2 separate regions of the Homo sapiens genome follow, and region 2 is linked to region 1. The links come from fine-mapping of genetic effects on gene expression. A gene starts in region 1. The other region holds a variant in brackets. All regions are shown on one strand. Distances are from middle to middle.

Region 1 (5,192 bases):
CTTCTGCACAGGCAGCCGAGTCACGGTGCCTACCTCACAGTACTGCTCTGCACAACCTTCATTCTTGCTGGTAGCAACACTGCACAGGGCTGGAAAGTGCCTCCAATCCTTACTGGAGCCTAAGCGTAGCTCTGCTTCTCAGAAGAGCACAGTCTCTGAACAAGGGGACCCAGGGGGCCTGCAGACAGCTGCAGGAAGGCCTGGTCTGAGAAAGCCTGGCAAAGGGGACCCTGGAGCTGGTGTCCGGCTGCAGGGGCCTCAGGTGGGTGTGGCCCTCTCCACCCATGGCTCTGGGGCCAGCTCCCGCTCCAACTGCTCCTGCTCCCTGCAATCCAGCTGCTGCAGCTGCTGCTCCACATCCTCAGGCACCTGCACCTCCAGCAGGTTTTCCATGCCACGTTCAGGCTCGTCCCCAATAAGCACCTGCCAGACGGGAAGCAGGTGAGCAGCTGGCCAGCTACAGACACCCCTTCCCCAGCCTCTCCAACCCTGCACCAACCTGGATGAGCTTCTCACAAGCCGTCCGCACGTCGGGCTCCGGCTCCCAGCTGTGCAGCTCTCGAAGGATCAGGTAGGCTCCCTGGTCCCGCACCTGCTGCCGACCTGGTGCTGTGGCTGTCAGCTGAGGAGGTGGAAGAGGTTACCCAGATGTCAGCATGCTCATGTGTGTGTGTTGGGGTGGTGCTTATTGCAGCAGGGCTCCTGCTCACCAGCATGATGGCTTCAACAAGCATCTTGCGGATGTCTGCATCAGGTTCTCGCTGCTTGTCTGGTGGCAGGTACTGCAAGTCGACAGGCAGCCCTAGGGGTGAGTGTGTGGGAGCCACTGTGTCCCTGGGCTGGGCAGCTGAGCCAGGCTCTGCCTGTGTAAGTCCCACCTGTGCTCAGCAACTCACTGCTGCAAAGTTTCAGGAGCCTGTGGCCTGGACACCTCTCTCTCCCTCCACTGGCCTCCCTCCTCTCCGGCCAACTCTGAGGCTCCACACTAGCCACTCACGTTCCATCTCTTCCTCGGAGAAATCCTCAGGCCCAGCCAAGGGCAGGAGCAAAAAGGGGAGAATGTCCACCTCAGGTCCAAGCAACCACTCGTGATGTCCTGAGGGATGGTGAGGGTGGGGAGACGGGAATGGAAACTGGTCCAGAGCAGCCCCGGAGTCCAGTCCCCACACCTGGCAACGCACCCCCGCCACACCCACCACTCACGGTGCTCGAAGCAGCAATTCCGCAGCGTCCCCACCACCCCGCCCCTGCGTACAGAGGAGTCGGGGTACTGGGTAAGGGGCAGCAGCCGCTGGACCACGCACCTGTTGGGAGGTGTCACTTAGGGCCGTCCCCCCTAACTTCCGTCCCCTCCCCGCCCGCGCGGGCGCCCTGGGCTTCACCTGTCGGGGTCCAGTAGGAAGGCCCGCGCCGCAGGGCGTTGGCTGAGGTTGGAGAGCAGCGGCGCTAGGTAGTGCAGGGGCGCGCGGGCGTTGTAGCCGGGCGTGCACAGCGCGCGCACCAGCCGCTCCAGGCCCGAGTCTGCCGGCTCCGCGGCCGCCAGCGCCGCCATGAGCGCTGCACACGGCGCCGGCTCGCGACTGAGGTTGGCTAGCGCGGCGGCCGCCTCCTCGGCCCAGGGCCACTGCGGGTCCAACGCGCGGCCCATCAGGCGCGCTGGCAGCCCGGGGTCGGCCGCCAGCAATGTCTCGTGCAGGCCGGGGTCGGCGGCCAAGTTCACGAGCGCGCGGGCGGCGTCCCGGGCCGGGGCAGAGGCCGGCGCCAGCTCCATCAGCGCCTGCAGCAGCGCCGCCTGCCCCGCCAACAGCGCGCGGCCGGGTCCGCAGCCAGTCAGCGCCAGCACGTGCCGCACCGCCGCCGCCTGCAGGTCCGCCCGCGCGCCCGGCGCCAGGAAGGGCAGCAGCTTCACCACCTCTGCCTCCGGGCTTGCCTCCGGCCCTCCCGAGGCGCCAGCGCCAGCCCCGGCCTCCCCCATGTCGAGCGACACTCTGCTGCCACCCGACCGGTGCCAGCGGTCCGCTTAGGGGTCCGCTGTGTGGCCCGCAACCCCGCCCACCAGAGGAGCGAAAGCCGCCCTGGCCAATCCGAGGCTGCGCACTGGGCTCAAGGGGCGGGACCGGCGTGCGGAGGGGAGGGGCCAGGCCGCGCGCGGGGAGTTATGGGTCTCGGCGTCTGGCCGGAAGCTGCGGAGGTTGGAGACTGAGCGCTGTGATGTCCCGAGCCATGGGGACCGAGGCCCGGCGCGATTTGGCCGCCTGCCGCGTCCACACTCGCTGGAAGCGTCCATGTAGTCTCGGCTAGGTCGGCCAGTGCTTCCCACTGGGCGCTGGCCACGCCGAACCTGGTCAGCCGGCCCTGGCTTCTCGTGGGCCCTGAGGGTCTGAGGCCCGCGCCCCGGCTCCTCGACTAGGCTGTCGGGTCAGAGAAGGGCTGAATGGGGGAGTGGCCACGGGCCTCTCGGAAGGAAGGCCTGCTCTTGTCCAGGCTGGCACGGCCACCGAGAAGCTCAGGCCGTCCAGGGACAGGACAACACAGGGCCCCAGTGGGGACCTGAGGAGGCAGCTTTGGAGAGGCCTCTGGGCATCTCTGAGCTGGTAGCTTTGGGGCATTTGTCAGGACGTCTTCAGTCGCAAGTGACAAACCCAACTCAAACTGACTTGCACGAAGAGAAAATTTGTAAATGGAGGTTTGGAGGGAGCCAGCTTCCGGCACTGCTTTATCCAGGAGCTCTCTGGAGCCTTGTACTGTCTACCCTACCATTGCTCTCCCTCTCTGCTGCCCTGCTGCTCTGTGGCTCCATATCATTTCCACCTGCCACTGGCCGATTTTCTCAGAGCAGTTGGGAAAGAAAGACACTGGGACCTCCCAGTTCCATGGTCGTGGCAGAAGAGTTTCTCTGTCCCAGTATTGGAGTCTGCCCCAGAAAAGGACTCCAGTTCTTCACGTGTCCTCCACTGTGGGCGGAGCAGCAACCTTCTAGAGACACACAGACTGGGAGGAAGGGAGGGCAAAAGAAGGGCATTCCCTCACTCCAGCATTTTTTGGGCACCAGCCATCTGCCAAGCTGGTAGCTCAGGACACGGAACCAAACAACTTTGGTGGCCATTCTGGCCTCAGGGTCTTTGCACTTGCTGTCTCTTCTGCCTGGAATGCTCTTTTCTCAGCTGTACACAAGGCTGGCAACTTCTAATTATTTGTCAGAGCTATCTTCCCTGGGCAACTTACAGAGACTCAGCCCACCCGCCACCCATGACTGCTTGGTTTCTGTCTGCCTCCTTCAAGATAGCAGTACTTAGGCCAGGTGTGGTAGCTCATGCCTATAATCCCAGCGTTTTGGGAGGCCAAGGCAGGTAGATCACCTGAGGTCAGCAGTTTGAGACCAGCCTGGCCAACATGGTGAAACCCCTCTCTACTAAAAAAAATACAAAAGGTAACCGGGGGTGGTGGCACACTCCTCTAGTCCCGCCTACTCGAGAGGCTGAAGCAGGAGAATTGCTTGAACCTGGGAGGAAGAAGTTGCATTGAGCCAAGATAGCGCCACTGCACCCCAGCCTGGGCAACAGAGGGAGACTCCATCTCAAAAATAAAATAAATAACAGTAAATTAGGCCGGGTGCGGTGGCTCACACCTGCAATCTCAGCACTCTGGGAGGCCAAGGCATGTGGATCACTTGAGGCCAGGAGTTCAAGACCAGCCTGGCCAACATGGTGAAACCCATTTCTACTAAAAATATAAAAATTAGCCGGGCATGGTGGCGTGTGCCTGTAGTCCTAGCTACTTGGGAAGCTGAGGCAGGAGAATTGCTTGAACCTGGTAGGGGGAGGTTGTAGTGAGTGGAGATTGTGCCACTGCACTCCATCCTGGGTGACAGAGTGAGACTGTCTCAAAAAAAAAAAAAAGAAAACAGTACTTAAAGGAAGGTAATAAAATTTAAGCTTCATGGTGCCTTGCTTGGACGGGTCCTTTCCAAAGCTTCCCTGAGAGCAAACCTTGCATAGTGTTCATATATATAGTCATAATGGTTTTGCAAAGTAGGGTGTAGCAGACATTATTGGTGCAAAACCCACTAGGATGGCTATGATCAAAAACACAGAATTTCTTTTTTTTTTTGAGATGGAGTTTTGCTCTTGTTGCCCAGGCTGGAGTTCAATGGCACGATCTCAGCTCACTGGAACCTCCACTCCCAGGTTCAAGCAATTCTCCTGCCTCAGCCTCCCGAGTAGCTGGGATTATAGGCATGCACCACCACGCCTGGCTAATTTTTTTTTGTAGTTTTAGTAGAGACGGGGTTTCTCCATGTTGGTCAGGCTGGTCTTGAACTCCTGACCTCAGATGATCCACCCACCTTGGCCTCCCAAAGTGCTGGGATTACAGGCGTGAGCCACTGCACCCGGCCAAAAACACAGATTAAACAACTGTTGATGAGGATGTGGAGAAATTGGAACCCACATACACTGCTGGTGAGACTGTAAAATGGAGCCGCCACTGTGGAAAACATTTTGTCAGCTCCTCAAAAAGTCAGACATTTGCTGGGCATGGTGGCTCGCGCCTATAACCCCAGCACTTTGGGAAGCTGAGGCTGGTCGATCACAAGGTTAGGAGTTCGAGACCAGAGTGACCAGCATGATGAAACCCCATCTCTACTAAAAATACAAAAATTAGCCAGGCACGATGGCACGCGCCTGTAATCCCAGCTACTCAGGAAGCTAAGGCAGGAGACTCACTTGACCCCAGGAGGCAGAGGTTGCAGTGAGCCAAGACGGTGCCACTGCACTCCAGCCTGGATGACAGAGCCAGACTCCATCTCAAAAAAAAAAAAAAATCAAAAAAACGCAAACAGAGTTATCATATAACCCAGCAATTCCACTCCCAGGCATCTAGTCAAGAGAAATGAAAACTGAAAACCACACAGAAACGTGAACGTGTACAAGCAGCATTATTCATAGTGGTCAAAAGGTGGAAACAACCCAAATGTCTGTCAACTGACGAATGGAAAAATAAACAGATAAATCCATGCAAAGGGATATTATTCAGCCATAAAAAGGAGCAAAGTACTGACATATGCTGCAACACATATGAACTCCAAAATCTTACGCTAAATGAAAGAAAGAAATCACAAGAGATCACATATTTTATGATCCCATTTATAAGACACGTCCGGAATAGTCAGTTCATAGAGACAGAAAGTAAAT
Region 2 (5,192 bases), 100 kb before region 1:
GCTCCCCCTCCGGCCTCTGCCTATGAAGCTCAACCCGCCCAGAGGAGAGCCGAGAGGAGAGAAGCCAGTCCAGCACTTAATTCCTACACACTGTACCTTGGTTTCTACCTTTATTCCTAGAACCTGAACAACAAAAAGTGAAATGAGTTAAGACGTGACTCCCCGGCAGCCCCAGCTCCCCTGCGTGGCAGGCCCACCGCAGTGCCCACCTTGGTGCTGAAGTGCTGGCAGATGTTCCGGAGGATGTCTGACTCTACCTTGGCCAGCACCAGCTCCCGGGGGGCCCGGGCCGCCACGTGCCCATAGCACAGGATCAGAGCACTCTTCACCTTCTCCACTTCGTTCTCACTTCGATCCTGAGAGGCCAGAGGAACCAGCGGGACTTCAGTTACACAATTACACTCCCCGACGGGAATCCTCGGCTCAGAAACTCCTGAAATCCTCCCAGAAGAAGGGCCAGAGCCAGTCAGTGACAGCAGAGGTGTGACCCAGCCGTGCACGGCACCACCTGAATCTGGGGATGGGGAGAGCCTCTTTGCAAGGGGCAGGAGCACAGGCAGCCAGCCAGGCATGGGCCCACTGGGTACCGAGTAACAGAGGGCCAAGGGCCGAGGTAGCAGAGGGCCGAGGGTCAAGGCAGCACAGCCACGTGAGAGAGTCAGGCAGGAGGCAGCTGAGAAGAGCTCAAGGCCCCACCCTTGCTCGCTGCAGATCAGCCTCCATCCGCACAGCAAGGGCTGGGAAGCCCTGCATGCTTGGTCCAGCCCTGAGATGCTGTAACTGGGACAGTTACGGGAGACAGGAAATAGAGGGACCACAGCCGGGTTGGGGGCCTGCAGCAGGGGCCCACTCCTTCCTTAAACCAGGCTTAGGCTCCGCCAGCACAGCTGGTGGTTTGGCAAGAACGCAGAATCTGCCAGCCACCAGGGGGCAGAGGCCTGCCCCAGCCGCGAACCCCTCTCATCACCCACACCTGGCAGAGACGTGGCCCTGGCCACAGCTACGTTTGCCTCCGGGAGGCCATTCTGCCGCCCTCCCCACTGGGAGCACCCACGCACAGGTCCTGCCCATGGAAGGAATGCAGGAGCAAAAATTGGTCCAGGGACGCAACCAGCTTCCTGCCCCACTCCAGCCCGCAGGGCACCCCCTGAGCCTCAAACTTGTGGATAGACAGCCGTCCCCAGCCCTGCACCGGTGTCACCCTAACCTTAAAAATGTTGAGAATGCCAATGGATTTTCTGAAGACCTCTGACCTCACGAAGTCCTCCAGCTGGGCCAGCGTGTCCTCGAGGTGGGAGATGGCACAGATCCCGAAGCAGCAGGCGAGGCCCTGGGGGGCAGCACACTTACCCCGGGCAGGGAAGAGCACGCACTGCCACACATGCACGCACACTGTCACGTGTGGACACGGGCACACCCACATGTACACACATGCGCACACTTGCACACACATCAACACATGCACACACCCTCTCTGCATATACGCACACCACCTGTGTATGCACACACGCACACACAGGCACACAGGCTAGCCAGCTGCCTCAGAGAACAGCAGGTGCCACCGTCCTCCAGCCCTGGGGTGTCTGGGGCTTCTGCAGGGAAAGCGGCCCCACCTCGCGTTCTGCCTCCTCCTGGTATCTGGCCGTCTCCAGCAGCTCTTGAAGGTGCTTCCTCACCACCTCCTTACTTGAAGCAGCACCCAGGGTGGTGCCTATGCATTTGTACAGGAAGTTCTGAAACAAAACCAGAGAACACGGCTCTGCCTGACTCCTGAGTACAGGGAGACCCAGCGCTGCCATGGGGCTGCCCCTGGGGTGCACCTCCTGCCCACAAGCTGATGAGAACTGCAGGGTGAGTCTGGGGCAACATCTGAGGAATAAGCGGTGGGGCCGGTGGGCTCTCGCACTCCTGGCCCTCAGCCACCACAAGGAGGCTCTGCCAGGCCACCAGGGCCACGGGAGACAGGGCCCAGACAGCAAGTGACAGACACGAGACCCAGAAACTCGGAGCCCAAGTACCACACCAAGAACGCCAGCAGGTGCCCCACCTTCTCCTGGGGTGCCTCATCGTAGCAGGGCAGCTGCCTGCACAGCTCCAGGCTCAGCTGGCAGATCCACGCGTTGTCAGAAATGATGGCCAGGGTGTCTCGCAGGAACTGCAGGCCAAGATGCCACTGAGGGGCTGGGAGCCCGACCCCTCACAGGGCTGGCTGGAGCCTGGGCACATCCCCATGTGCTGTGGCTGCAGGGGCTGCAGACCGCCTTCCAGCGGAGGCCGGGGGCGGCAGAGCCAACCCTCAGGGGACAGCCATGCCACAGTTGGCTCACCAGGCAGGGTGAGAGGTTGCCCCCGACGCTTGGGGCTGCGACTGCTAGAGGGCCGGTGCCTTGTCACAGCAAGGCCCCCGCTGCAAGGCTGCTGGGGTCTTCAGCCTTGA[T/C]GCTGCCTGATCCTTGGCTCCCCAGCCAAACCACGAGGTGAGGTCGAGGCAGGTGGCCCAGCCTCTGCCACCCCAGCACCCCCCAGGCCAGACAACACCTTAAGGCCCAGGATGGGCCGTACCCCGGCCCTCACCATCAACAGCTTCTCCTCCCACTCCTCCTGTGGCAGGGTCTCTTCTGTGTGCTCTGAAACGACAGCCGCGCAGGCCAGCCCATCCCAAAACGCACCAGTGGGGCTCAGAGCCCAGCACCTGCCCTGGAGCTGGGGATGCTCAGCACAGACAGGCCCCGCCGCCCCGCTGCCCCCCACCTGCTCCCAGGAAGCACCCAGCGGGAGTGCCTTTCAAGCCCCAGGTCATCTGGGGCCTTTCTTGGACAACAGGGGAGACTGTATTTTCCAATTATACAACCCTAGTCCCCATTGGCCACCCTAGTGCCACTTGGCAAAGGTGGGGTCAGAGCTAGCACCCTCCTACTCTGAGACCTGCCCTCCCCACAGGGCTATGCACCCCATCCTGACCCTGGCCTCACCATCCAGGTACCCCAGCAGCAGCGGGACAGTCGTTTCCCAATGCTGACCCAGCAAAGGGTGAATGTTTGGGTGCAGAACACTGAGGAGGCGCAGCGCCGCTGCCCCACGTCCGTCCCCTAGGTAGGGGCTGGAAGACACAACCTGAAAAGAGGCAGCGTGGGAGCCGGGTCTGAGCAGGGAGCACTGGTCATGCCCACAACCTGCACCTGCAGGACCACATCACCCGACGGGGAGCCTGGCTCTTCCCAAAGCTGGGCCGCCCACGTAGAGGAAAACCACACCTGAGCCCTGACCGCGGCTGCCCACTGAGAAGGTAACCCCTTCCAAGCCTGGGTGGAGCACAGGGACACAGAGTGGGGCGCTGGGCACGCTGTGAAAGGGCGAGGCTCACCAACAGTCTTCCGGTTACAGCATAGGGAGACGGGAGGCTCGCTGGAGATGAGAGGTGGAAATAGTCAGTGGGGGGCTGCCTGTAGCCCTGGGGCGGGTGTCAGGAACTGGAGGATGGGGAAGTGGGGGCAGGAGTGGGGAAGTGGGGGCAGGAGTGGGGAGGTGGGGTACGGCGCGGCACGCACCATGGGCGTCGTACTGGATGAGGAAGGCGTCGGCCCCGGCCTCCTGCCTCTTCTGCGCCAGATGCACGAGGCTCCTGCAGAGCGGAGTCAGGGCCCCAGTGAAGCGCACAGGGGTGAGGAACTGGAGCAGGTATGGCCAGAGGACCTAGGGGAGCAGAGGGCCTGGTCTGCATCCGCCCAGAGGGCGGTCCCATGCAGACAGGGCCCTGCCGGAGCTCCAAGGTGGAGACAGACCCTTTGCTGGGCCTGAGCACCCTGGGCCACTGCCCTGGAGAGCTCTGTTGTCGCCAGGCAGGGACGGGTGCCGTGCACTCACGTGACTCATCCTGTCCACGGTGGTGCTGACCAGGTAGAGGGTGCGCACGCTGATGGCCCGCACGCTGTCGGCCTTGGGGTCCTTGCTGCCGGGGCCTGGCTTCTCAGGCTGGAGGAAGGCAAAAGGCAAAGGCGTGCGTGGGCGGCCATGGCTCTGGGCCTGAGGACACAGCCTGCCCGGAAGCGGGGCAGACCCTGAGCCTCGCCGCAGGTCACGCAGACATGTGCACCACCTGCCACAGACAGGAAAGGCACTCTCCGCTAAGATCACCCAAGAAAGCAGGCTTACCTGCCTCAGTTCTCATCTTCAAAACAAACAAAACCTTGAGCATTTGCTAAGCTACTGACTCCATAAAAAATCACTGCTCGTGAGGTTGCAATGCCTGCAGGGGAGGAACAGGATAGCCTCTGTGGGAACGTTACCCATGTCAGAAAACCTGGTTCCCACCAGGACGCCACCCAGCCTCGGCAGCCACGGTGGGCTGGATGTCTGCTGTCCTCTCTGTACGCTCAGCTCCCCAGAAGGCGTCCCTGTAAGCAGACGACTTCTGTTTCCCACACGTTCCATTCAGGTTTTGAAATACCAAAAAGTAAAAGCTCAACCACAAAGCGGCATATTTGGAAAAATGGCAACACTGCAGGGACTTCTAATCCCTCTCTTTCAGAAGCTGAAAGTCACACAGAAAAAAAAAAAAAAACAGTGATATTTAGGCCTTGAACTTCAATTTTTACAGTAGGCACTAAAAATATAGATAGAACTTCATACCAAACATACACTTTGAAATCCTGACCATTAGGCCAAAAATAATATTGCAACCAACACTTAAAAGCAGAAATCAACCTGGCCAGATTCAATATAACAATAAATCCACAACACCCATGAAAACCTATCGACCTGGAGATTTTAAAGATCATAAAAGAATCATTTGCGTTAATAAAGAAACCAAATAGAAACTGCAAAATACCTGATAACGAACAGTGAGGACATACTCCACCAGAAACACGAACGTTAGGACACAGACTGGGGACAATGCCTGTGCGAAAAAATGCACCAAAAGTACCGCAACAGGGAAACAAGGAACCACAACGGGGAAATGAGGAGCCAAGAACAAGGAAAATCCCAGCGACAGGGTGTGAAAAAGTATAACCGTGAAATAAAGAATTCAATTCAGGAAACGAATAATGTAACGATTCACTGAGGAAGAAATTACTAACTTGGAAGAACAGGCTGCCGAAGACTTCAAGGAAGAAGAAATTTAAAAAGAATGGAAGAAGAAAAAGCTAAAAGATGTGAAGACAGCAGTGCTAGCCTTCGGATAACAGATACACCAA

The links. PIP is the estimated chance that this variant, and not a neighbour inherited with it, causes the effect.
Region 2: its variant is the best candidate, but not a certain one, in a credible set for the expression of HGH1 in lung (TOPMed, PIP 0.83).

Annotation. Positions count from the first base shown.
Region 1 is chr8:144,134,619-144,139,810 of GRCh38, reverse strand. It overlaps HGH1 (HGH1 cochaperone), which reads right to left and starts at 2,037. Exons shown (of 6, transcript NM_016458.4): 1 at 1,383-2,037; 2 at 1,204-1,304; 3 at 998-1,096; 4 at 711-802; 5 at 500-622; 6 at 1-423. The coding sequence starts at 1,975. The coding sequence ends at 259. RefSeq lists silencers at 1,340-1,459, 1,500-1,729, 1,740-2,199 and an enhancer at 2,390-2,439.
Region 2 is chr8:144,237,533-144,242,724 of GRCh38, reverse strand. It overlaps MROH1 (maestro heat like repeat family member 1), which reads right to left. Exons shown (of 44, transcript NM_032450.3): 15 at 3,862-3,969; 16 at 3,546-3,690; 17 at 3,362-3,402; 18 at 2,970-3,111; 19 at 2,572-2,624; 20 at 2,048-2,155; 21 at 1,614-1,733; 22 at 1,208-1,330; 23 at 210-356; 24 at 97-123. Among named protein-coding and RNA genes, the nearest start is that of MIR7112, 23 kb to the left of the region's middle. The variant T/C (reference allele first, on the strand shown) is at 2,438.